Homo sapiens: one gene and its partners. The protein of the gene in region 2 purifies or fractionates together with the protein of the main gene of each other region. This does not show direct contact. Each region holds a gene or a part of one and is shown on either strand. Other genes may lie near its edges. The genes, in order: ITGA7, NCEH1, SCARB1, ITPRIP, CANT1, UGT8 and TMTC3.

Region 1 (3,500 bases), on a different chromosome or scaffold from region 2:
GGAGATCTCCATTTGAGGGCAAGGAAGTGGGTGCAGACAGGTTGCTGGGTTATGCATGGACCTGTGTAACACTGGCAGGGTAATGGTGCTTGAGTGGTGCCGGCATAGGGGTGTGTGTGTATGTGTGCATGTGCATGTGCATGTGAGCACACATGTATCAGTATCTGCCAAATCTCTGCATATGGGCAGCATGCCTCAAGCAGGTCCCTGGCCCACAGAGTGAAATGATCCCCATCCCTTCCTCCCCCAGACCTGTGCACACCGATATGAGGCAAGGCAGCGAGTGGACCAGATCCTGGAGACGCGGGATATGATTGGTCGCTGCTTTGTGCTCAGCCAGGACCTGGCCATCCGGGATGAGTTGGATGGTGGGGAATGGAAGTTCTGTGAGGGACGCCCCCAAGGCCATGAACAATTTGGGTTCTGCCAGCAGGGCACAGCTGCCGCCTTCTCCCCTGATAGCCACTACCTCCTCTTTGGGGCCCCAGGAACCTATAATTGGAAGGGTGAGTCACTCCTCGGGAAGGGGAGAAGGGGACCAAAACCTCCTCTTACCTCAGAGACAGGGTTGGGGATGGCACATGGCCAAGCATGACCACATGTGCACTGCTGTATGGCCCCAGGGCACTGCCATGCCTTCCACCCCATTGAGCTAGTGCACACATGAATGGGGGGTGCCTCCTTTCCCTCGCACGGCCAAGTGTTCCTCAACATGCTGGCATGGGCCCCAAGTGCACGCTGGGCCTGCAGCTGGGGCCTGCATGCTCCAACACACTAGCCCACACCTCATCACTGCCATTCCCGTCTCCGCACGCTGCTGCTGGCTGAGCTGACACTCGGTGAGTGTGATGCCACATCTGGGGGACCCCAGGAAGCCTGGGTTGGGGACAGGGTGGGGAGAGGGCTAGAAAGAAGAGGCAGGGCTTCCCCGTGTGCCTGTCTAACTCAGTGTCCGGCCTGAGGGGTGTTCCTTGCGCCCTGCCCTGGGCACTAACAGGTCTGTCCTTGCAGGCACGGCCAGGGTGGAGCTCTGTGCACAGGGCTCAGCGGACCTGGCACACCTGGACGACGGTCCCTACGAGGCGGGGGGAGAGAAGGAGCAGGACCCCCGCCTCATCCCGGTCCCTGCCAACAGCTACTTTGGTAGGGACCTCTCCCCGGCCCAGAACTGCTCTAACCCTCTGCTCCTCTCTCTTGTCCTCTCTCTCCATGCTCCCATCCTTCTGTCTCTGTTTCTGTCTCTCACCTTGTCTCTCTCTGTCTTTCTGTCTCTGGCTGTGATCTCTCTGGTCTCTTTTTCTCTCTCCACCTCTTCTTCTTCCACCATTTTCTGGCCTTTCTGTGGCTCTGTCTCCCTACTCTGTGGCCCCTACTCTGGATGTCCCCTCCCTGGTGTCTCACCCCACCCCCCACAGGGTTGCTTTTTGTGACCAACATTGATAGCTCAGACCCCGACCAGCTGGTGTATAAAACTTTGGACCCTGCTGACCGGCTCCCAGGACCAGCCGGAGACTTGGCCCTCAATAGCTACTTAGGTTTGTAAGCTCCCACCTCCTGGACTCTAGGGGCATGGCCCAGCCTCCCCTCCTTCCCCAGGGAACTCGACCTTTGGTGCCTTATAATCTCCTCCTCCCCCAACACACACCCAGGGAGACATACATTGGGCCCAAATTGCAGAGAAGAGCTGGGTCCAATGATCAGGCCTAAGAGGAGGAGGCCCCCAGGGTGGTGGCCTCTGGGGCTGTGAGCCAGGGGTCTCCATGGAGGAAGATTCAGGTGGAATGAGAGGGCCAGGGCTGAGGATATTTTGGGAAGGACAGTCCTGTCTTCTAGGGGGACTTTCCCTGAGGGGATGGATGGTGGGCACATATTGAAGAAAGGGCTAATGTTGTTGGTAAGTCCCTCTCGTTGTCTCATCTGCATTCCTCTGCAGAGGAGGAGGAAACCAGGCCTGGGAGATGTTTGGGTGAAGCAGGCGCTCTCTCACTCCCCCTTGTCTCCCCCTCATCCATGTGAAGACTTCCCCTCCCTGCCAGGATGAGGGAGTTGGGGGAAAGAGGTGCACTGGGTGGGATTCGGGCCTGAGAGGGACCTCTAGCTCTTCTAGCTCCCTGGGTGTGGGCAGGGTGAGGCCACTGTGCTCAGCCTCCTACCTGGGCTCCTGGCCTTCTCAGCCATCACCTTTCTCTCTCTTGCCCAGTCCCTGAGGCTGACCTCACTGCACTTTTTGTGCCAAGCTTGTCTCTGGGCCTGGTGGGTGTGGGAGGCTGCCAGGCCCTGTGGGGAGGAAGAGCTATCCAGCTGTGGTGCTGATGACTTGGGGGGACCTATCTTTTGGCTCTTAACCTAGGGGAGGGGGCAGGGTGCAGGGGAGCTGTGACTTGGCTCTTAACCTGTAGGGAGGGGGCAGGGGCTGGGGGAGCTGTGACACACCCCAGCTTCTGAGTCTTGGGGTGAAGACTTAGGGGTAAGTCACCCTTCCCCCAGGCTTCTCTATTGACTCGGGGAAAGGTCTGGTGCGTGCAGAAGAGCTGAGCTTTGTGGCTGGAGCCCCCCGCGCCAACCACAAGGGTGCTGTGGTCATCCTGCGCAAGGACAGCGCCAGTCGCCTGGTGCCCGAGGTTATGCTGTCTGGGGAGCGCCTGACCTCCGGCTTTGGCTACTCACTGGCTGTGGCTGACCTCAACAGTGATGGGTGAGTGGGTAGAGGGCCGTGCCACCTGAGGGAGGCTGGGTCTAGTAGCCCCAGTCTGGCTGAGGCCACTTAGCCTCCTGCTGGCTCCTCTGGCCAGGGAGGACCCACACTGAATGTTTCCCTCTCTCCATAGCTGGCCAGACCTGATAGTGGGTGCCCCCTACTTCTTTGAGCGCCAAGAAGAGCTGGGGGGTGCTGTGTATGTGTACTTGAACCAGGGGGGTCACTGGGCTGGGATCTCCCCTCTCCGGCTCTGCGGCTCCCCTGACTCCATGTTCGGGATCAGCCTGGCTGTCCTGGGGGACCTCAACCAAGATGGCTTTCCAGGTGTGACGGGGAACTGGAAAGGCTCAGGGAGGGAGGGGCCACAGGAGGGATGGGGAAGCCCCTCAGAGGTCAGGGTGTGGTCTTCTGAGGACTCAGGGAGAGAGGGTCCCTGAGCTTATGTCTGAGCTGTACCATTTACCAGCTTTCTGACCTTGGCAAGTTCCTAACCTTTTTGCGTTAGTAATATCTGCAGGGAGTGGCCAAGAGGATTAAAGATGATGTATGTAGAGTGCCTGGGATTTTGTAGCCTCTCAATAAAATAGAAAACATACCTGAGTGACTGGGGGGAGTTGAGGCCTGGATCTTGTCTGCAAGGCCCCCAGCCAGCGTGACTGCCTTTTCCCTGTGCCCTGCAGATATTGCAGTGGGTGCCCCCTTTGATGGTGATGGGAAAGTCTTCATCTACCATGGGAGCAGCCTGGGGGTTGTCGCCAAACCTTCACAGGTGAGGGGAGTCGCTGGGATGAGGGAATGGGTG
Region 2 (3,500 bases):
CATATATTTGGGTGTGTCTTATTGCTTAATTTCTTTAAATTGCTTTGTAACTTCAATATATTTAATTGTATCTTTAAATGTGTCTTGTCCTTTTGAAAGGAGCGTGTGAGAAAAAAGAAACATTGTCAAGGGAGGCCCTGGCATTTAGAAGCAGCTCAGCTCAGATATAACCAGAAGCTTTTTAGAAATGAGGCAAAGACCATACTGCCTGATGGTCTCTTCCCTTCTGAACCCTCAGGGTATCAAGCTCTGCATTAAGTGTTCGCAGAAAGTTATTTGGTTGCAGAAGGAACATAGCAAGGAGACCTAATTTACCCACCAAGCAAAGACACTTCTGAGTTTATATCCTTCTCTCCACTTTCGCAAGTTCATCAGGAAGGGGAACAGCTGGAGAGTAACAGTGCTCTTTTGTAGATGATGAAACAGAACACTGGTGATTAATGATCATAAGATCACGGAAACAATGTTGCTAGCAGAAATCAGGACTATATGATGTCTGCGATGTGGCACCTTACAGCTTCTCAGGCTGTGCACAGCGTACGACGGTACACCTTGAAGAGGGTCCGTGTGTGCTCATCGCCTCAGCCTCTGGGCAAATTCCTGAGCCCTTTACCCCAGTGTCCCATATAAACATTATAACTGTGTGTGTATATTTTATATATACATACATATATATATATACACACACACATATATATATGTCCTGTCCTGTCATGAAAAGAGTTAGAAAGCACTATATTATAACAGCATTAGCAAATGTTAATGAAAAACAAGAACAAGAGGCAGTTAATCAAACAATGAACAGCTATTTTAGGAATTCCTTTAATATTATTCGCTGGCAAGTATAAGCAGCAGCAGAGCAAATGAATATTAAGAAAATTCAACTTCTACATGTGCCCTGACATCAACTGCCCAATTTACTGAACAAGTTGAAACTGTTCATGTCTTTGATACTAATTTATGCATGTGTACATGCACATATGTGTTCACACATGTACTGCACAGAGGATTCTAACTATCAACTTAAGTTCTTTGGTAAATTGGAAGAAGGCAATTACCATTCGAGTTTTGTGGTAAAATGTTAGTCTAATTTAGAGAATATTGAGATCTGCCAGGGAATAGCTAAGAATCACTGTATTTCCAAAGTTTCTAGAGTAGATATAATAAACCCTTGTTAACACCATTATCAATTAATAGGGAACATGCAAGCTCCATTCCACTTGTCACAGGACAGGTAGTTTGACTGGCACGAAACGATGAAATATGAACAAAGAAATGGCAGACCTGGCTCTGTTATATTATGAACTGTACTTTTCTTTTTAATTAAATGAAGACTTTCTTAAACACTTGAGACAAATTACATGAGTTTCTTTAACTATATGAAGCTGTAAAACAAGTGAATTGTCTTTATATGACAGATATGAGAAGACTGTACATTTTATAAGAGAGCCCACCTCGAGTTTCCTTTATGTAATGCATGCTCTGAGTACATGCGGGTTTGACTCAATTTGTTCACACCTTTCCAGAAACATCTCTCCATGTTAGCTTATGTTTCGCTTGCATTCACAGAATACTTGAACAACCATCTGCATTGTTTACAATAGCAACACAGTGGTGTGGGGGTAGAAGTGCTGATTAGAAAAGGGACAATTTGGCTGAGTGCAGTGGCTCATGCCTATAATCTCAGCACTTTGGGAGGCCAAGGCAGGCAGATCATCTGAGGTCAGGAGCTAGAGACCAGCCTGGCCAACATGGTGAGACCCCATCTCTACTAAAAATATAAAAATTAGCTGGGACCGGGTGCGGTGGCTCACGCCTGTAATCCCAGCACTTTGGGAGGCCAAGATGGGCGGATCATGAGGTCAGGAGATCGAGACCATCCTGGCTAACATGGTGAAACCCTGTCTCTACTAAAAATACAAAAAAAAAAAATCAGCCGGGCATGGTGGCGGGCGCCTGTAGTCCCAGCTACTTGGGAGGCTGAGGCAGGAGAATGGCATGAACCCTGGAGGCAGAGCTTGCAGTGAGCTGAGACTACGCCACTGCACTCCAGCCTGGGCGACAGAGTGAGACTCCGTCTCAAAAAAAAAAAAAAATAGCCAGGCATGGTGGCACATGCCTGTAATCCCAGCTACTCAGGAGGCTGAGGTAAGCGAATCGCTTGAACCCGGGAGGCAGATGTTGCAGTCAGCCGAGACTGTGCCACTGCAATCCAGCCTGGATGACAGAGCGAGACTCTGCCTCGAAAAAAAAAAAAAAAAAAAAAAAAGGGACAATTTGTTTATGCAGGGTAAAAGACAGGAATATGAAAGGGTAGGTAGATGAGTAGAAAAAGAATTTAGAGAACTGCTACAAGAAAAACTGTGCTAATGTTCACAATTGTATTGATAAATTAGAGTTATACTAGAGCCAATATCAAGACTGTTTGAAAACTTGAAAATTGATATGAACAGTAACCTGTTGTTAATTACTTTTCTTGGTACTATTATAAATAATAGCTATCACTGCCTGAGTGCCTACAGTGAGTGCTAGGGTAGGTTGCTGAATTCTGGCTACTATTCTGTGAGGTAGGTACTATTATCTTGCTTACAGAGAGAAGAGAACAGAAGCTTAGACATTAAGGAGCCAGTACAGAAGCTGGATTTCTAAAACCTTGAGGGGCTGCAGGACTTACAGAATTGCCTAGAAATGCTGGTGTAAATCAGTGTGGGTCCTGGAAGCTGCTCTGAGCCCTATCCAGTATGCGATAACATTTGCATGTCTATATGATATCAATGACAAACTCATGAATATTACCTAACTTTTTTTTTACTCAAATATCTTTCCCTTAGCTCTTCACATTACTCTCCTCCTACCATACTGCCCAGAAAATAAATTCAGTAGCCACACCTTTCTATAGTTGTTACTTCTTTGAAGGGCTATGAGAAAAAAAAGCAAAGAAACGGGAGTTCCTTCCTTCCTTTGGATTTTTAAAAGCCTGTATCTTTTGGAGAATCTTTTTTTTTTTTTGAGGTAGAGTCTCGCTCTGTTACCCAGGCTGGAATGCAGTGGTGTGATCTCGGCTCACTGAAACCTCCGCCTCCCAGATTCAAGCTATTCTCGTGCCTTAGCCTCCCAAGTAGCTGAGATTACAGGCATGCACCACCACTCCTGGCTACATTTTGTAGTTTTAGTAGAGACAGGGTTTTGCCACATTGGCAAGGCTGTTTTCGAACTCCTGGCCTCAAGTGATCCACCCACCTCCGCCTCCCAAAATGCTGGGATTACAGGCATGAGCCACCGCGCCCGGCCGAGAATCTTTTAAAAAATAGGCATTGATTTAGAAGATTACATGACGAATAAGAAGTCTCCTAGAATAGAAAGTGATTTCCCAGGCTAGATGGTAGAAGAGGGGAAGAGAAAGTGTTGCAGAGGAAATGAGGGCTGTATAGATAAATATCTGGGAGCCAATGAAAAAAGAACCCTGGGGTACAAAAACTCCCAGATAGGTCTGTGGAATC
Region 3 (3,500 bases), on a different chromosome or scaffold from region 2:
CTCACCTTGCTCAGCCCGTTCCACTTGTCCACGAGGTGGATCCTGCTGATGTTCTGGACCCCCGTGAACACCGTGAAGAGCCCAGAGTCGGAGTTGTTGAGCTACAGACACAGCAGGGAACAGCATCGTAAGGCTTAGGCCTGCCATTGAGCCGGCCTGGTCTGAACATTCTGGGCTGAGCCCTCCTCCCCCTCCACCAGAAGGACAGGGCCCCCAGCATCTGGTTCACTGCCAAATGCCCAGTGTCTGGGGACCGAGAGGAGGCTTGGGAGCTTTCTAGGAGGAATGGTCCCGGGTTCTGTGGCTGCAGTGTTCCACCCTCCCTTCCTAACTCCAGGAGAGTCTGGCTTTCCTCCCAGGTAAATGGCAGATCACCCCCACCACACCCTACTCCAGCATAAAATAAAGCATGGCCAGGTCAGCTCCCTGAGCAATGAAAAAGGAGAAGTGGCATGTCACTTGGGGGGATGCTTTAAGGACTGTGCACACGCCTTTCACCGGGCTCTCTGCCGCTGCTATAGCAGCCAAGGAGGTATGTGTCAAGACAGAGCCTCCCTCAGCCTGGATCCCCAAGTGACCACCACAAGCGCGGGTGCCCCAGTCACCCACACTGGACGTGGAGTGCAAGCAAAGGAATAAGTCTTGGTTGTTCTAAGCCATGGAGATTCCGGGGCTGCTTGTCACAGCAGCAAAACCTGGCCTGTCCTAACCCATCGAGGTTCTTGATAGTGGGGCCCAGGCTTTGGTGCTCCGAGAGCATTTCCCAGAAGCTGGTTTCTAATCCCAAAGACATGCAAAGCACAAAGTGGTATGAGTGACTGAAGGAAATATCTAGAAGTGCTTTGCAGGGTGGAGCACACTGAGGAGCTCCAAGGTTGCCCGGCTGAGTGACTGCACCCATCACAGACCTCCAGAGCAGGACCCAGCACAAGGCCCCAGCCCAGCATCCCGGGTGTGTCTGTCACGTGCCCATGTGGAGCCAAGAATAACCAGAGCCACTACAAAGGGGAGCATTAAAGGGACTCATGTGCAAAAACGGCCAGGTACAGTGCACCGGACACAGTAAGAGCTCAAAATGATAGTCTTTATTTTCATTATTATTGTTATTATTAATAAATGCTCACCCAATAGGATACTTAAATGATCATTATAATGGACGGAGAGCATCAGAAACTGCCAGTTACTACCCAAAGCCCAATCTCTCCTTACTCTTTCATACAAAACCCAAACCATACTCAGAGCATCAGCACACCCAGCTAAAAGGCTACCTTTCCAGCTTCCCCTGGAGCTAGGTGTGGCCATGTGACTCAGTTCTGGCCAATAGAAAGGAAGTGGACATTGGTTTTCTTCCTCCCTAAGAGGGAGGAAACTGGAACACGCTGTTTTACCCCCAGTTCCTCCATCTGCTCCCCAAAGCCCCACCATTTTTTCCTTCTTGCTGTGCTGCCTGGAATGTGATGTGATTGCTGACACTCTAGCAGCCAACTTGGACAATGAGGTTATCTTGAGGATGAAAACCACATGCCAAGGATGGCAGAGCACAGTAGTAGAAGGCTTCCAGATCACTTAAGACCATGAAGCCACCACACCAACACTGAACAGCCTACCGCTAGACTTTTCTTGTGAGGTTTTCATTATATGCAGTCAAACGTAGATTATACTAAACTAGGGACTTTGTAATAACTTTCATTTGCAAAGCACTTCAGGATTTACAAGATGCCTTTACAGCATCATGCCACTTAGCCCAAACTTGCTCATTTACCCACACGACAGGAGCCCGTCACCCTTGACAAAAACGTACTGAGTATCTATCACACGCAGCACCACGATATCCCCCCCAGCACTCTACCCTGATCAGCAGAGACCAAAGAGATGGCTGAGGCTGGAGCAGTCCCAAGGACTCAGTGAAACCTGCGGTGAGGGAGCCAAGGTCAGGGTCAGACCCTCCATGGACGAGATGTTGGCTCCGAAGCCCAGTCAGTGACCCTACCAGGTTGCCAAGAGTCAAGATTAAGAGTCAGCTTGTGATATTACTCCCCAGCAGCCATGCCCCCTTCCTCCAGCAAAGCCTCCAATTTGCTAAGCTAAGGCCCAGTCACATCATTTGAGCCTGGATCAAGCTGTACCTGAATCCAACCCTAGCATTTTCAGTTCTATGAGCCCCAACATTCCCCATTTCACTCAAGCCGGTTTGAGTCAGGTTCTCAGTCACTTACAACCCACAGCCACTAGATCCCCAGCCAGCTACAAAGCAAGCTGGTGACCAGTGTCCAGGCTGTGTGAGGGGAAGACAGGACACAGGCCTGAATCTTTGGCTTCTCACCAGGCCACACGTACCTCAGCAAATAATCCGAACTTGTCCTTGAAGGGGAACATGCCTGGAAAGTACTTGTTGATGAGATTCACAAGGGGGTCCTTGTAGCCCCACATGATCTCACCCACAGTGCGGTTCATGAAGGCACGTTCGCCGAGGGTGGTGAATGCCAAGGTCATGATGAGCTTCAGGGTCATGGGCTTATTCTCCATCATCACCGCCGCACCCTGCAAGGCGAAGGGACACTAGTGTCAGAGGCTGGACGTGGCTGGCCCATCCTCCCTTGGCCCCAGCTGGGCCTCACAGCAAAGAGCCCATGAAGGGAAATGCTGGGGTGCAGGAGGCCCCTGGAGTGGCCACGTGGGGCATCTGGGACACCAGAACCACCCTCTGCTCCTCCAGTGCCAAGGCCACATGTGCTCCCGAGAACCCCTTCTCCCCCTTGCACCCCACTGGACTCAGGCTAAGTGAACTCCAGCCCCAGTCCCAGAGGCGGGCCTGTGGCTCAGCCCTCAACAAGACAGCCCCTTTTGGAGATCTCAGAAATGTAAATTGAAAAGGGAAAAAAAAGTACTTTGGCCAGGACTTCCAAACCAAGACAGGTGGACCCACCTGGGAAACTCAGAACCCACTGGGGGTGGTGGAGACAGCACAGGGCCGAAAGCCACCCACCAGGCGTGAGTCCCCACGCTCCGACCACCTCAGGGACTGCTCTCTGCACAAGGGGCAGGCGGGAGGAGAGACAGGGGACGAGGTCAGGGTGCGAGGCGGCGTGGGCCACAGGGCAGCCTCACCAAGACCAGGATGTTGGGCATGACGATGTAGTCGCTCTCCGAGCCGTGGGACTTGGAGGGCTGGAACTGGAAGGTGCGGTACTCGAGGAAGGACACGGTGTCGTTGTTGTTGAAGGTGATGTTGCTTTTGTGCCTGAACTCCCTGTGGGGGAAGCCAGTGGGTCAGACGCCCCGCCCCGCTGCATGGGACGTTTCCCTTCTACTCGCCTGCAATGCCTGCCTGGGAACCAGGGGCCCTGGACGTCTGTGCACACCTCCGGCCCCACAGCCAAAGCTGAGCTCGGCCCCTTCGCCAAGTCTGTCCCTCCCGCCGCCTGCCCACTGCAGGACATGGTGTCGCCGCCCACCCGGCCTCGTTCTGCTCTCCCCCACCCAACACGGCCATCGTCTCT
Region 4 (3,500 bases), on a different chromosome or scaffold from region 2:
GGGGAGTGGAGAAGGTCCGTCCTCCACCCTGAGGATTCTCAGTGTGGGCCTCAGAGGTGAGCACTGAAGCACTTACAGGTTTCCACTGGAGGAGGAAAGCGGGGACAGGATGAAGTGGAAGAAGTCACACTGCAAGGTGGGTGGGGTAAGGAAAAAGTGCAGGGGGCAGCGAGCCAGCTTTCCTTCCCCAAGCCAAGGAGCAGCTTGCTGGATAATGGCAGAAACAGGTCAGCCTGGTTTCTACATTAGAGAAACATCAACGGAAAGTTTTGCCAGGGAGGGTCCAAGGCATAACTAACTGCGAGGCTGGGTGATTAACATGGGTGAGAAAGTTAACATAAAGGTGGAGAGTACTCATAGCAGAATATCAGGCAGCAGCCAGTTAGGAGATAATTTGGGGGGTTTTAGGGTCCTTCAAGCTGCCTGGATCACAGGCAGCCACCTTTGGACACAGTGGGCCTTGACCAGTCACAGTAATAGCCCGGACAACCACCTACCCAGGTTCCTTGTCAACTCAGTGCAGGATGCCACGAACAGGTGAGTGGGGCCACGGCCAAGCCCTATGGCTGGGAACCATCCCTGTGTCTACGCCACACTTCATGGTGCTACTTGCTACATCCTCATTCCTGCCAGAGGAGGAGGAGCTGTAAGAGCCTCCTTGTACTGGCACAGGCAAGGTTCAGAACTCCAAACCAACTGAAGGGACCAACTCTGTGTGCAAGAGGAAAAGAGGATAGACTCGAGAGGAGACAAGACTGGGTCAGAACCCAGTATGTGCACCTACTGGAGGTGACTTCGGAGAAATCACTTCCCAGAACCTCAGTTTCTTCATCTGTAAAATGAGAATAATCATATCTACTGTTATAAAGCTTGAACAAGATAATGCATGTAAAGCACTCAGCAACATGCTTGCTCCTGAGCAAGTTTTCTTATGAAAGGAACTGCGATGGGATGGAAATACGCAGATGACCCTGCCTGCTGGGGTTCAGGGCGGAGTGCGCCGCAGACGCCCCTACAAGGAACTCTGGCAGGATGTAGGCAGTGCATAGTAGCACTGGTAATTGTAGGATTACAGACAAGACTCAACAGAAGCACCAGGGAAACAGGGCACCAGCCTGGGGAAGGACTGCAAGGAAAGGGGGCCTGGGCTGTAGACCCAGCAGACCTGTGTTCTAACCTTGAGTGACTGTGGGTGGATCGCACAGCTTCTGCGCTCCCACGCTTTCCCTGTGAGGAGGAATTAATAACACTTCCTCCTTCACAGGGATGTTGGGACGGGTGAGTGAGATCATACACCTTGGGTGCTTAGCACCGTGCCTGGCACAGGGCAGGCTCCTCTCCTCAGCATCTACAGGCTTCTGCTTTCTCACCTGCTGAGCACAGCAGCCCTGCCTGAGCCCCAGGCATGGGGAGTAAACACACGCTCGAAAGTGCTCTGAAAGCACAAGATGTTCCACTGCTATTTCTCCTCCTTGGCACACCCCTGAGTCCACCCTGGCCCCCAGCAAAGGGGAGAAGGCTTCAGAGCCTGGGATCCTCCTGCAGGTCAGGGGTTCCCTCTGACTCACTTTCTCACGTAATCCATCTCCCCGCTTCCCCGGATCGGATCCCAGCTGTCATTTGGCTCCCTGTTAAACTCTGCACAGGCTGGCTCTGTCTGCAGCACCCTATGGGATAGGACAGGCCGAGGCAGATAATAGGGCTGTGGTCGCTCAGGGCCCACCAGATGGGGTTCAGTTTGAAGCCTCTGGTACTTCCCCTTCCCAAACCCAGTCACAGGAAACACTGCCCTGGGGACCCCAGGGGTCAGAAGAATGTCCTGCAGGCCAAGAGGATTCCAAAATAAACCTTAAAAACCAGTTCATGCCATGATGGGAAGGAGGAGCCGACAAACCCCATTATACCCTCCTCCCTCTGGAATTCAGGCACAACTGAACAGCATTAACGTTAAAACAGAGATCCTAGGAGTGACAAAACAGACTCTGTAGCAATAAGATACCGAATTTCAACCCAATATAGCATCATATGAGATAGCAGGCCCTGAAAGAAATCAAAGTATTTTACCCCAAAATATATTTCTTTGACATATTTTGAAATGGCCCTGCAAAGCTGCCTATTGTCAGGAAAATCTACATTCTGTACAGAATCTCCTTCCCTTTCCAGGTCTCTCCTGATCCAGGAGAGATGAACTAAGAGTCTGATCTACATTCTGTACAGAATTTCCTTCCCTTTCCAGGCCTCTTCCTGATCCAGGAGAGATGAACTAAGGGTCTGGCACCTTTTTAGGTTTGACAGACACTTACCATCTCCTGTCTCTGAAACTCGCTTCCTGGGACTTCAGCTACATAGTAAGAACCATGGTCTCCATACCCCTTATCCTAGACACTCCTTTCTACTGATTCCAGGTCTTTAGATAATAACTTAACTCGTTCAACCAATTGCCAGTCAGAAAATCTTTGAATCCACCTATGACCAGGAAGCCACTCCTTGCCCTCACTTCAAGTTGTCCCATCTTTCCACACCAAACTAACATATTCCTTACACATGCATTGATGGAGGTCTGCCTGTAATTTTTTTTTTTTTTTTTTTTGAGACTAAGTCTCACTCTGTCGCCTGGGCTAGAGTGCAGTGGAGGGATCTCAGCTTACTGCAACCTCTGCCTCCCAGGTTCAAGCAATTCTCCTGCCTCAGCCTCCTGAGTAGCTGGGACTACAGGCATGCCCCACCATGCCCGGCTAATTTTTATATTTCTAGTAGAGACAGGTTTTCACCATGTTGGCCAGGCTGGTCTCGAACTCCTGACCTCAAGTGATCTGCCTGGGATCACAAGTGCTGGGATTACAGGTGTGAGCACCTGGCCTGCCTGTAACTTCTGTCCCCCTAAAATGTGTAACATCAAGCTGTAACCCAACTGTCTGGGGCACATATTTTCAGGATCTCTTGGGACTGTGCCTCAGGCCTTGGTCATTCAGATGGGTTCAGAATAAATCCCTTCAAATATTGTATAGAGTTGACTTGTCCACAAAAGGGAAGGAAACAGGGCATTCTGACATTCTGAGACAGGACGGGTAGTGAGGAGCCTCTCACAAACCATGGATATGTGTATATGTGTGCATGTTCTTGCACATACCAGCACATGCCTCCCCAAAGAGTCCCCTACTCCCAATTCCAAGGATGTCCACCTCTGCCTTGGCCCAAAGTTCTCACCTCTACCAGGCTCTCCCGCACCTGTGGTCTGAGACATCAGCTGGTGGGTTTGGCTTTGAGAATAAACCTGGGTCACTTGGCGGGCTTTTTTCTGTCTGCTTGCCAGGAAGCCTGCTGAATTCCTCTCCACCTCTGCCCTTGTCCACAGAGAGGGGCGGCCCATGCAGTTCACAGCTAAACTTAGCCTGGCAACGCTGGAGTCACGGGGCAACAGGGGCTGAGGGAAGATGGAAGCTTCTGGGTGGCCCGGACAGAGGGCTGCAGGTGGCTGGCTGGGACCAGTGGTTTATTCA
Region 5 (3,500 bases), on a different chromosome or scaffold from region 2:
AAGGGAAGGTGTTCTGGTGCTGAAGTTAAAGGAATTTTCTGGAAGGTACACAGAGTTCTCTTGTCACTAGAAGCAGTCCCTTGTTTAACCAAAGGTGGCTGAGGCCCTGGCGTCTCTGCCCCTCTGTTAGCTCTGGGGAATCAGCGTGACCTCGAGGTAACACTGACCACACGGGACTGTTCAAAGTCTGTCTCCCCAACTGTGCTGAGCTCCTGGAGGAAAGGCCCCTGCCTCCGTCACACTGATTCCCCAGAGGGGCAGAGACGCCGGGACTCAGACACCTCTGGTTCCATGTGGTCAGAGGACATGAGCCTCCCGGGTGGGGAGCGTGTGCCACGGTGTAGATGCCAGGAGTCTGGAATAGGAAGGCGTGCAGTGTTGCACAGCGACCTGGGAGAGGTCCTGCTCCTGGGAGTGCAGGGGGAAAAACCCACTGAGGCTTTCTCTGCAGGCTGAGACGTTTGTCCTTCAGATGGAAGGCATTGGGATCTACTAGACTTGGAATCCAGACTTGCTTTTTGGAAAAATTATTCTGTCAGTTTTGTGGAGGGTGATTTGAGATGGTCTTGACCAGGGATCTGTCGAGGGACAGGGAGTCAGTATTTTCAGCCTCCACAGTCTGTTGCGACCACTCAACGGTGCAGCCAGACTCAGCATGCCAGGGAGGAGTCCTAGCTGGCTTTAATCAGCCACATCTACACACCAGGACGTGACTACACAGCAGGCCGCGTCTACGCAGGCCGCGTCTACACACCAGGCAGAGTCTACACACCAAGCTGCAACCACATACCAGGCCACACAGGCCGCATCTACACACTAGGCGGGAGACTGCATTTGGCCCACGGGTGGTAGTTTGCAACCCTCCCAGCAGGCGAGAGGGTACTTGTAGAGTGAGTGAGAAGCAGTAGCAGTCAGCCCCTGTGCACAGTTCTCTAACCCCATCAGCATGGCTCCGGGAAGTAAACTGAGGCCAAGGGAAGTCCCTTGGCTGAGCCCAGATGGTCTATATCAGGGGTGTCCAATCTTTTGGCTTCCCTGGGCCACATTGGAAGAAGAATTGTCTTGGGCCACACATAAAATCCATTGATAGCTGATGAGCTTAACAAAAAATCTCATCTCATCATGTTTTAAGAAAGTTTACGAATTTGTGTTGGACCACATGTTGGACAAGCTTGGTCTAGATCATTAGACCAAGACTCTGAGAGTCATCAGGGTGAGATGGAACTGGAGCCGAGGCTGTGTGGATGGGGAGAAGGGAAGCGAGTCTCAAGCTGGGTGGGACACGTGGGGCTGGGGAGGGAGGAGGGTTAGGACGAATTGCTTCCTGGGATGGCTCCTGAGGGCCGGCACTGCCAGGACAGGGAGTTCCTGAGGAGGACCTGGTTTGCGGTGCCTGTGGGTATCGGATGAGGAGGCTCAGAGACTAGGTCAGGCTAGAAAGGCGTGGGGGTCTTCACCTTAGAGGGCAGGCCCTGGGAGAGGTCAGTGGGCTGCCAGCAGTGGGGGCCGAGAAGACCTGCCTGGGAGGAGGCCCACAGAGAGTGCCCCCCTGCCTCGAGGAGGGACACTGACAATGTGCTCACTGGGTTTGCCACTGGTGAAGGCTTCAGGTGGCTGCTTCTGAGGATTAGCCAGAGGGAAGGAGAGGGTGTAGGTGTGGGTGCTCTTGTACCATGGTGGGCGAGGGGGCCTGGGCGGGGGTGGGAAGGGACAGAGGTGCCGGGGACTCAGGGAAGGGTTTTCCTTCATTAACAGATTCGCCATTTATTCAGCAGCAGTTGAGTGTCTGTGGGAGTGTGGGGTCTGGAGGTAAAATGGTGACAAGGTGGGCGACTTGGGGCAGCCTGTGGATGGAAGGGAGGAACCAGAAGAGCAGGTGCCCGGCGGCTGGGGGGACTGACCTGAGTGGCAGGTGTGAGCCCCACCCAGGGGCCTCGGCTGCTGAAGTTGGCCACAGAGTGGTCTCCTGGGAGAAGTGGGCCGGAGATTTGACAGGAATGGTGAAGGTGAGGACAGTGGCTCTCCGGAGTGCTGAGGGAGTTGAACAGGGAAGAACATGGGGGTTCCAGGGGCTGGTGACGACGACACCTCACGATGTCTGACAGCAGTCTATGCAGGCACCGTTGTTCTGTGCTGGCAAGCACCGTCTTCCCGGGCCTGCAGCTCAGATGTGGCAGCTGAGCAGCTCGATCTTTGGGGTGCTTGATCCAGGTTGTGGGTTCATAATATGCCTAAGGTGGGGCCCCCGGTAGAGTGCAGAGGGGCTGTTGAAGAAGTGGCTAATGGCTCACCTGGCATCTCTTTCCCTTCAGCCAATGCGTGCAGACTGTCTGCTCCCTGCCTGGCAGTGCGTCAGGTGCTGGGGCTGTGACAGTGGCCAGATCCCTGCCCCAGGAGCAGAAATAATCACCTAGCCAGGCAGGGACGGTGGGAGAGCCGGAGCGGCATGGGAGGGAGGGCGAGTGGGCAAGTCTTCCCAGGGAGCTGATGCCCCGTAGGAGAGACCGAGCTGCTGGTGCGAAGAGCAGGCCCGACTGTTCCAGGCAGGGGGAACTGCAGGCTCTGCCAGGGCCAGTGTGGTCAGGGGACAGAAGGAGGTCTATGTAGCCAGCCGGCAGGCAGAGGAGATGGTACAGTGTGAGGGCTGAGCGGGAGCAGAGTGGGTTCACCCCAGGACCTGAGGAAGCCGCTGAAGCTGGGAGTGTGCCATCTGATGGATGCTACTTCATGGCAGGTGGCGAGGGAGTGTCAGGGGATGTTGGTGGGGGGCAGCTGGCAGGGCAACTTCATGGCGGGGGGTATGGGAGTGTCAGGGGCGGAGAGGCAGGAGGGGTGGAGGGAGGCAGCCGGCATGGCATGGTGAGGAAGGGCCATGGAAGAGGACAGAACCTGTCCACGGAGTCAATGCTGAGGAAGGAAGACGGAGGATGAGGCCAGTCAGGTTTTTCGTGGTGGCAGTGCCTTATGTTTTTATCGAAGTGTATATTCACACAGAAAAGCACATCTCCCAGGATCCTGAGAGAGCTTGAACCAGACCACTGTGGACACGGTGGCCACCCGTCACCACTACCCTTCCCAAGGGGAGACGAGGAGCAAGTAGGCTTGAGGGAAAAGCTGCACAGGACTCGTGTCTTGAAATGTCTAAGACGCATGTCAGAAATGCAGGTAAGGGGGGGTGCGGGTGCTCGCACCTGTGATCCCAGCACTTTGGGAGGCTGAGGCAGGAGGATCACTTGAGCCCAGGAGTTCAAGACTGGCCTGGACAATATAACGAGGCCTCATCTCTATAAAAAAAATTAAAAATTAGCTGTGCCCCAGGTGTGTTGGCTCACACCTGTAATCCTGGCACTTTGGGAGGCCAAGGCAGGTGGATCACCTGAGGTCAGGAGTTCAAGACCAGCCTGACCAACATGGAGAAACTGCATCTCTACTAAAAATACAAAATTAGACGGGCGTGGTGGTGCATGCCTGTAATCCCAGCTACTAGGGAATCTGAGGCA
Region 6 (3,500 bases), on a different chromosome or scaffold from region 2:
TGTTGCAACTGCTTTTGGTGTTTTAGTCATGAAGTCTTTGCCCATGCCTATGTCCTGAATGGTATTGCTTAGGTTTTCTTCTAGGGTTTTTATGGTTTGGAGTTTTACATTTAAGTCTTTAATCCATCTTGAGTTAATTTTTGTATAAAGTGTAAGGAAGGGGTCCAGTTTCAGTTTTCTGCATATGGCTAGCCAGTTTTCTCAGCACCATTTACTGAATAGGAGATCCTTTCCCCATTGCTTGTTTTTGGCAGGTTTGTAGAAGATCAGATGGTTGTAGATGTGTGGTGTAATTTCTGAGGTCTCTGTTCTGCTCCATTGGTCTATATGTCTGTTTTGGTACCAGTACCATGCTATTTTAGTTACTGCAATCTTGTAGTATAGTTTGAAGTCAGGTAGCGTAATGCCTCCAGCTTTGTTTTTTTGTTTTTGGTTGGTTGTTTTTGCTTAGGATTGTCTTGGCTATAGGGGGTCTTCTTTGATTCCATATGAAATTTAAAATAGTATTCTCTAATTCTGTGAATAATGTAAATGGTAGTTTGATGGGAATAGCATTCAATCTATAAATTACTTTGGGCAGTATAGCCATTTTCACAATATTCATTTTTCCTATCCATGAGGATGGAATGTTTTCAATTTGTTTGTGTCCTCTCATTTCCTTGAGCAGTGGTTTGTAGTTCTCCTTGAAGAGGTCCTTCACATCCCGATAGCTGTATTCCTAGGTATTTTATTCTATTTGTAGTGATTGCTGAATGGGACTTCATTCACGATTTGGCTCTCTGCTTGCCTATTGTTGGTGTAAAAGAATGCTTGCGATTTTTGCACAGTGATTTTGTATCCTGAGACTTTGCTGAAGTTCCTTTCAGTTCAATTTTGGGGCTGAGACAATGCGGTTTTCTAAATATAAAACCATGTCATCTGCAAACAGAGACAATTTGACTTCCTCTCTTCCTATTTGAATACCCTTTATTTCTTTCTCTTGCCTGACTGCCCTGGCCAGAACTTGCAATACTATGTTGAATAGGAGTGGTGAGAGAGGGCATCCTTGTCTTGTGCTGGTTTCCAAAGGGAATGCTTCCAGCCTTTGCCCATTCAGTATGATACTGGCTGTAGGTTTGTCATAAATACCTCTTATTGTTTTGAGATATGTTCCATCAATACCTAGTTTATTAAGAGTTTTTTACATGAAGGGATACTGAATTTTATCAAAGGCTTTTCTGCATCTATTGAGATAATCATGTGTTTTTTTGTCTTTGGTTCTGTTTATGTGATAGATTACCTTATAGATTTACATATGTTGAACCAGCCTTGCATCCCAGGGATGAAACCAACTTGATCATAGTGGATAAGCTTTTTTTTTTTTTTTTTTTTTTTTTGAGACAGAGTCTTGCTCTGTCACCCAGGCTGGAGTGCAGTGGTGCAATCTCGGCTCACTGTAAGTTCCGCCTCCCAGGTTCACGCCATTCTCCTGCCTCAGCCTCCCCAGTAGCTGGGACTACAGGTGCCCATCACCATGCCCGGCTAATTTTTTGTATTTTTAGTAGAGATGGGGTTTCACCATGTTAGCCAGGATGGTCTCGATCTCCTGACCTTGTGATCCACCCGCCTCATGCTGCTGGATTCGGTTTGCCAGTATTTTATTGAAGATTTTCACATTGATGTTCATCAGCGATATTGGCCTGAAGTTTTCTTTTTTGTGTGTGTCTCTTCCCAGTTCTAGTATCAGGATAATGCTGGCTTCATAAAAGGAATACTTCTTTTACAGTATTAGTTACTTGGTTTAAACTAGAATATCTCGGACACAATATTAGTGAGGCAAACTAATATTTTCAATAATTATCACCTGTTAAATGTGGAATATTATCACATTGGAAACAAAGATAAGTGACTTCAGTTTATATAATGACTTTTAGCAAAGGACATGCTACACAAATCACTGGCATTTTTACATTGACTAAGACATCTTTCTATGCACAAAATCCTTTCAGTTAAATATTTAAGGTTTTCAAGTTACATGCAGTTAACTCATTATCTGATGTGCATACTTTTGGGAATGATATAAATTTATTCACTGCATTGAATAATCCTTAAATTAAGCACTTACATGTCTTCAATATTCTATAGCTGGAATTTAATTGCCATGTGACCTAAGATTGCAACCTGTTCTTGCTCTGATTCAGCCTGGTTCATGCCTCGCAAAACACAGCTGGACTAACTTCCTGTGAATAACCTAGATTTTTGCTCTTTCCTTTTCATCTGAGCCAATTTCAGCAGTTCTGCAACTGTTTCCCCATAATTCTACTTAGGGCTATATTTTACAAACTTTCCTGAAAGATTGAAGATAGATACATACATACACACACATATATGATACATGCATGATGTATATGTATGTGTGCATATATATATATATATATATATATATGTATATGAAATAACATCATGTTTTGAAAAGCACACCTTTAAAGAAAAACTATAGATAACAGAAGAAGGGATATACTTAGGCAACCCTAGTTATGGAACACATTGCTCCAATGGCAGAGCTGTATCCGACACTGGATCCTTTAAGAGTCCAGAGCATGAAGGTCACCCCTGAGCTCACATAAAGGCAGCATAATGAACTTCAGTTGAATTCAGCATTTTATATGCAAGCTGCATCCTTTTATATGAAATAATTTTTCTTATTATTGGTTGTTCCTTAGAATGTGGCAGTGTTTCTCAAGTGTTTCTCAGTGTTAAGCCATATCCCCTAGGCATAAAAAGAAAAAGCTTATACGCTTCTAATATTTAATGCTATTGGAAATGCAAGGTAAATTAAATATAATATCTACAAATGAAGAAAACTGCTGCTTTGTTTTAAAACTACACAGGCCAGTTCTTCACCCTTTGAGACTCATTGGTGAACTAGCTTAACTCAGGACCCATCAATAATTTAAAAAGCAAAATAAAGATTCTGCTTCATCATTCACCTGAGTAAATAAATCTCCGTATTTCTGCAATACTCAGTGCTAGGGAAACCCAGCAACACCAGGCTTACCATGCAGTACAAAGAACACTGTCTTGGGAATCAGACAGTCCTGGCTTCTAATTTCAACTACAATTGCTGTGTAAGCCAAATTACTCAAGTTCCATGAATATCAAGTGCCTTGCCTCTATAATGTGGATAATAAAAACTGTGATATACAGCTGTTATAAGTATGAAAATGAAATAAAGCACATAACATTTGACACAATGTAGATATCCAAAGATTGTTCCCATTGCAGTTTCTCCCTGTTTGGAAGATCCTTGCAGAATATTATCTGGTGTCATAACATGGCTGGTCAAATGACTGCTGTTTTCATTTTCTAAATAATAGAAAACATGCACAAAGCATTATCACAGGAATCTAAAGGATATTTCCATAATTTGATAATTTATTGACAATCTATTGAAAATAATTGGCTACTGACAATATACTGTGGTATGTAAGTTCATCAGCTTTAATGTTAATTGAAACCTT
Region 7 (3,500 bases), on a different chromosome or scaffold from region 2:
AAGGGGAATCCCTAACTTGTAATAGCCAACTTAGGTTTTGTATTAAGGAAAGGGTAGAAGCAGCTCTGTCTTAGTTGCATTTTCTTCCCATCACCAAAATTGTTCTTTTCCTATTTAAATTAAAACTTGAAACTTACATTTTATAATAGTTACTTCTAATATCAAACTCTCAGGAACTTTCTTGTTTTTAGAGTTGATTGGTTATTGATGCCTTTGACACAAAGAAAACATCTTGGTTCTCAGCAAAAAAAAAAGTTTTCTGGCACCACATGTTAAAACTTCATTTATTTTCTCATGTATGTGTTATCATTTGTATTACTTTTGAGGAAAAATGTGTTTTTAAACTTCGTTTTGTAGCCTGGTCCAGAAAACTAATAGTAATTTGTAACATTTTTTCCTTTGGGGAAAGTACATTCTGAATTTAAGTTTTTGAGATAAAATCTGTTTGTAAGTTGGGGTTTTCTTTGTTCCGCCGTGCCTATTGAGTTTATTAGCAGGGTTGTATCTATAAATAACACCTGTCATGTATTAATTCATAAAGAACTATTCAACAATCTCTACATTAAAAAAATAATATTTTGGACAAACATTCATTCTAGAAGTGGTTTTAATGAGAATATTAATTGTTGTTCCTTTTATTTCTGTGCTGATACTATAGGAAAGAGTAGTATTATAAGAACAACTCTCATATCACTACTTAAATATTATTTGTACATATGTAAAAATAATTCTTTAAGCAAAATTACTTTTTAAAATTTTCTAACAGAAAATAGAACCACACTAGAAAGATTTATACAATGGTTTCTTAACTGGTCCTCAATTCTAAGTGTGTTCCTCAAAGTTATCTACAGGTCAGATTAATCCCTCCCACTCTACCTGTTCAGCTTTTTTTTAGTCCTTTTTCTGTTTGTTTGTTTGTTTGTGACAGAGTCTCACATTGTTACCCAGGCTGGAGTGCAGTGGTGTGATCTCGGCTAACTGCTACCTCTGCCTCCTGGGTTCAAGTAATTCTTGTTCCTCAGCCTCACTATTAGCTGGGACTACAGGCGCGTGCCACCATGCCTGGCAAATTTCTGTATTTTTAGTAGAGACAGAGTTTTGCCATGTTGGTCAGCTGGTCTCCAACTCCTGACCTCAAGTGATCTGCCCACCTCAGCCTCCCAAAGTGCTGGGATTACAGGAACGAGCCACCATGCCCAGCATTTTTCTTTTTTTTTTTTTCTTTTTTTTTTTTAAGAATGGTCGTATTATAAGAAGACATTGATGAGGACTAAATTAATATAAGAAGGGGTTACAGATTTTTAATATTTTGGTTTTTTGCATAGTGAGCCTTCTATTATACATTCAAATATTGGAATTTCTCTTACCACTACTATATGTCATTTTTTTCTTCTAATGCTGTTATTTTGTCACCTGACAAATTCATTAATCTTTCACTCTGGCTAGCTGCCCTTTTTCTGATGCAGTTTAGTCTGTCTCCTTTTTAAGATAAAGTCAAAGAATATATTTGCTCTGTCCTCCTTCCTGGATTCCTCCTGATAGGTTGCCCTCTGAAATCAGGCATAATTTTTTTCTTCTTAAATAATATTTGAAAATATATCAAGCCAAATATACTGAACTAAGGAGTTCAGATTTGAGGACAGTTTCAAAGAGTTGTTTTCGAAAGAGAGTTTTTTAAGAGTCTGAGTTAAGAGAAAAAAAAGCTGTATGTGGAAAGGCTTAAAACTTGGCAAAAATTGTATCTACAAACTGAGATGGTAATGTTGTAAGTAAAGCTTGTGTTTGATTTTTCCACAGAGGAGAATTGCTTTTAAAAATGAATAAACCTCTTAAAGCAAAGGAAGCATATCTTAAAGCACTAGAGCTGGACAGAAATAATGCAGATCTTTGGTACAACTTGGCAATTGTACATATTGAACTTAAAGAACCAAATGAAGCCCTAAAAAACTTTAATCGTGCTCTGGAACTAAATCCAAAGCATAAACTAGCATTATTCAACTCTGCTATAGTAATGCAAGAATCAGGTATGTTTTCTCAAAATATTTCTGTTTATATAAATTGTAGTTTATAATATAATAAGACCTTAATTTAACTTTATTACCCATAGCAAACACTTTATGTATTGACAGTTTATAGCAATACTGTGCTTAACTGATTTATAGAAAGAATATTTAAAATACTTGAAGTAAACTATTTTCAAGTAACATGCATTCTAACATATGATAATACTGATTTTTAATTCTTCTGGCATGTGTTAAGACTAATTTTTCAGGCAGTCTATTAAGCAACATTAACTATTTTGTCATTTTATATACATAAACATAATGTAACTTATATATAAACTCTCCAAATAATATGAACTTGTGAAATTTTTTACATAATTGGCTGTGAGGAGCCAAGAGCATATGTTTTCAAAAAAATAGCATTTTATTTTCTTTTGATTCATAAGAGCAAATACTTTTGGCACCATTTTATATCCAGTTTTACTACGTTTTCTGAGATGTTGTAATTTTTTATATTTCCTATAATTTAGCAAAACTAAATTATTAACCACAGTAAATCTGGATCCTTCATCCATATTTTATATAGGAATTTCAGTTCTGCCTCATAAGATAGTGTATATGATTTATAATCTTTTTAATTTATAAATTAGAAAAATCTATTATAATGTTTAGTTATTTCTTAGATACATTTCGTAAAACTTTTGTAAAATATGAAAGAATCATAAAGTCGTAGTATTTTAGAGCTAAAGAGGACCTTTGAGTTTGCATTTGCCAGTCTTCTATTTAGTAGAGTGAAAACCAAATAGATTTTATGACTGCCCCAAAGTCATATGGCTAAATAGGTAACCCAAGACAAGAACTGAAGCCTCCTGATTTATTTTCAAATTTTCTTTATCCATCGTGCTGCCAAATAAAAGAATAGAGAGAAGTCTTTATGCCTGGTGTCCAAAAAAGTAGAAATTTGGAGAAAAGCTAATATTTTTGTAAGGTTTTCTACCTTGATAATCATGAAGGATGCTCATTATTCGACACAAGATTGTACTATAAGGTTTGTAATTGTAGAACTTGAACTTTTTTGTTTTTTTGGCTTTTTTTTTGCAATAGAAATTATCTCAATGGAGATTTGTTTCCTGCCAGGCAGTGGCTGATGCCTGTAATCCTAACACTTAGGGAGGCCAGGGTGGGGAGGATCACTAGAGGCCAAGAGTTTGAGAATAGCCTAGGCAACATAGTAAAACTCTGTCTCCACAAAAAATTTTAAAATCAGCAAGAAATGATGGCACATGCCTGTAGTCCCAGCTACTCGGGAAGCCAAGGTGGGAGGATTGCTTGAGCCCAGGAGTTTGAGGTTACAGTGACCTGTGGACACAGCACTGCCCTCCAGCCTGAGTGACATAGTGAGACCCTGTCTCAAAAAAAAGAAGATACATGTTTCCTAAATCCTAATTTTATAGCCCTATATTTAATGGTATGTTTTTGTCCTCGAAACATTCCTAA

The links.
Region 1: the proteins of NCEH1 (region 2) and ITGA7 purify together in Homo sapiens (affinity purification with mass spectrometry; 2 studies listed by BioGRID and IntAct, with this or other methods). This does not show direct contact.
Region 3: the proteins of NCEH1 (region 2) and SCARB1 purify together in Homo sapiens (affinity purification with mass spectrometry; 2 studies listed by BioGRID and IntAct, with this or other methods). This does not show direct contact.
Region 4: the proteins of NCEH1 (region 2) and ITPRIP purify together in Homo sapiens (affinity purification with mass spectrometry; 2 studies listed by BioGRID and IntAct, with this or other methods). This does not show direct contact.
Region 5: the proteins of NCEH1 (region 2) and CANT1 purify together in Homo sapiens (affinity purification with mass spectrometry; 2 studies listed by BioGRID and IntAct, with this or other methods). This does not show direct contact.
Region 6: the proteins of NCEH1 (region 2) and UGT8 purify together in Homo sapiens (affinity purification with mass spectrometry; 2 studies listed by BioGRID and IntAct, with this or other methods). This does not show direct contact.
Region 7: the proteins of NCEH1 (region 2) and TMTC3 purify together in Homo sapiens (co-immunoprecipitation; 3 studies listed by BioGRID and IntAct, with this or other methods). This does not show direct contact.

What each region holds. Positions count from the first base shown.
Region 1 is NC_000012.12:55,697,905-55,701,404, reverse strand, and holds part of ITGA7 (integrin alpha-7 isoform 2 precursor), read left to right. Parts: coding exon of another isoform or gene 1-26; exon of another isoform or gene 27-55; coding exon of another isoform or gene 56-79; intron 80-250; coding exon 251-506; intron 507-518; exon of another isoform or gene 519-839; intron 840-1,011; coding exon of another isoform or gene 1,012-1,143; exon of another isoform or gene 1,144-1,378; coding exon of another isoform or gene 1,379-1,415; coding exon 1,416-1,535; intron 1,536-2,487; coding exon 2,488-2,695; intron 2,696-2,828; coding exon 2,829-3,022; intron 3,023-3,378; coding exon 3,379-3,467; intron 3,468-3,500. UniProt on the Homo sapiens protein: Integrin alpha-7/beta-1 is the primary laminin receptor on skeletal myoblasts and adult myofibers.
Region 2 is NC_000003.12:172,648,568-172,652,067, forward strand, and holds part of NCEH1 (neutral cholesterol ester hydrolase 1), read right to left. Parts: intron 1-3,500.
Region 3 is NC_000012.12:124,811,865-124,815,364, forward strand, and holds part of SCARB1 (scavenger receptor class B member 1), read right to left. Parts: intron 3,251-3,500; coding exon 3,109-3,250; intron 2,542-3,108; coding exon 2,338-2,541; intron 102-2,337; coding exon 6-101; intron 1-5. UniProt on the Homo sapiens protein: Receptor for different ligands such as phospholipids, cholesterol ester, lipoproteins, phosphatidylserine and apoptotic cells. Receptor for HDL, mediating selective uptake of cholesteryl ether and HDL-dependent cholesterol efflux.
Region 4 is NC_000010.11:104,317,966-104,321,465, forward strand, and holds part of ITPRIP (inositol 1,4,5-trisphosphate receptor-interacting protein precursor), read right to left. Parts: intron 1-3,500. UniProt on the Homo sapiens protein: Enhances Ca(2+)-mediated inhibition of inositol 1,4,5-triphosphate receptor (ITPR) Ca(2+) release.
Region 5 is NC_000017.11:78,999,765-79,003,264, reverse strand, and holds part of CANT1 (soluble calcium-activated nucleotidase 1), read left to right. Parts: intron 1-3,500.
Region 6 is NC_000004.12:114,668,307-114,671,806, reverse strand, and holds part of UGT8 (2-hydroxyacylsphingosine 1-beta-galactosyltransferase precursor), read right to left. Parts: intron 1-3,500. UniProt on the Homo sapiens protein: Catalyzes the transfer of galactose to ceramide, a key enzymatic step in the biosynthesis of galactocerebrosides, which are abundant sphingolipids of the myelin membrane of the central nervous system and peripheral nervous system.
Region 7 is NC_000012.12:88,190,807-88,194,306, forward strand, and holds part of TMTC3 (protein O-mannosyl-transferase TMTC3), read left to right. Parts: intron 1-1,797; coding exon 1,798-2,024; intron 2,025-3,500. UniProt on the Homo sapiens protein: Transfers mannosyl residues to the hydroxyl group of serine or threonine residues.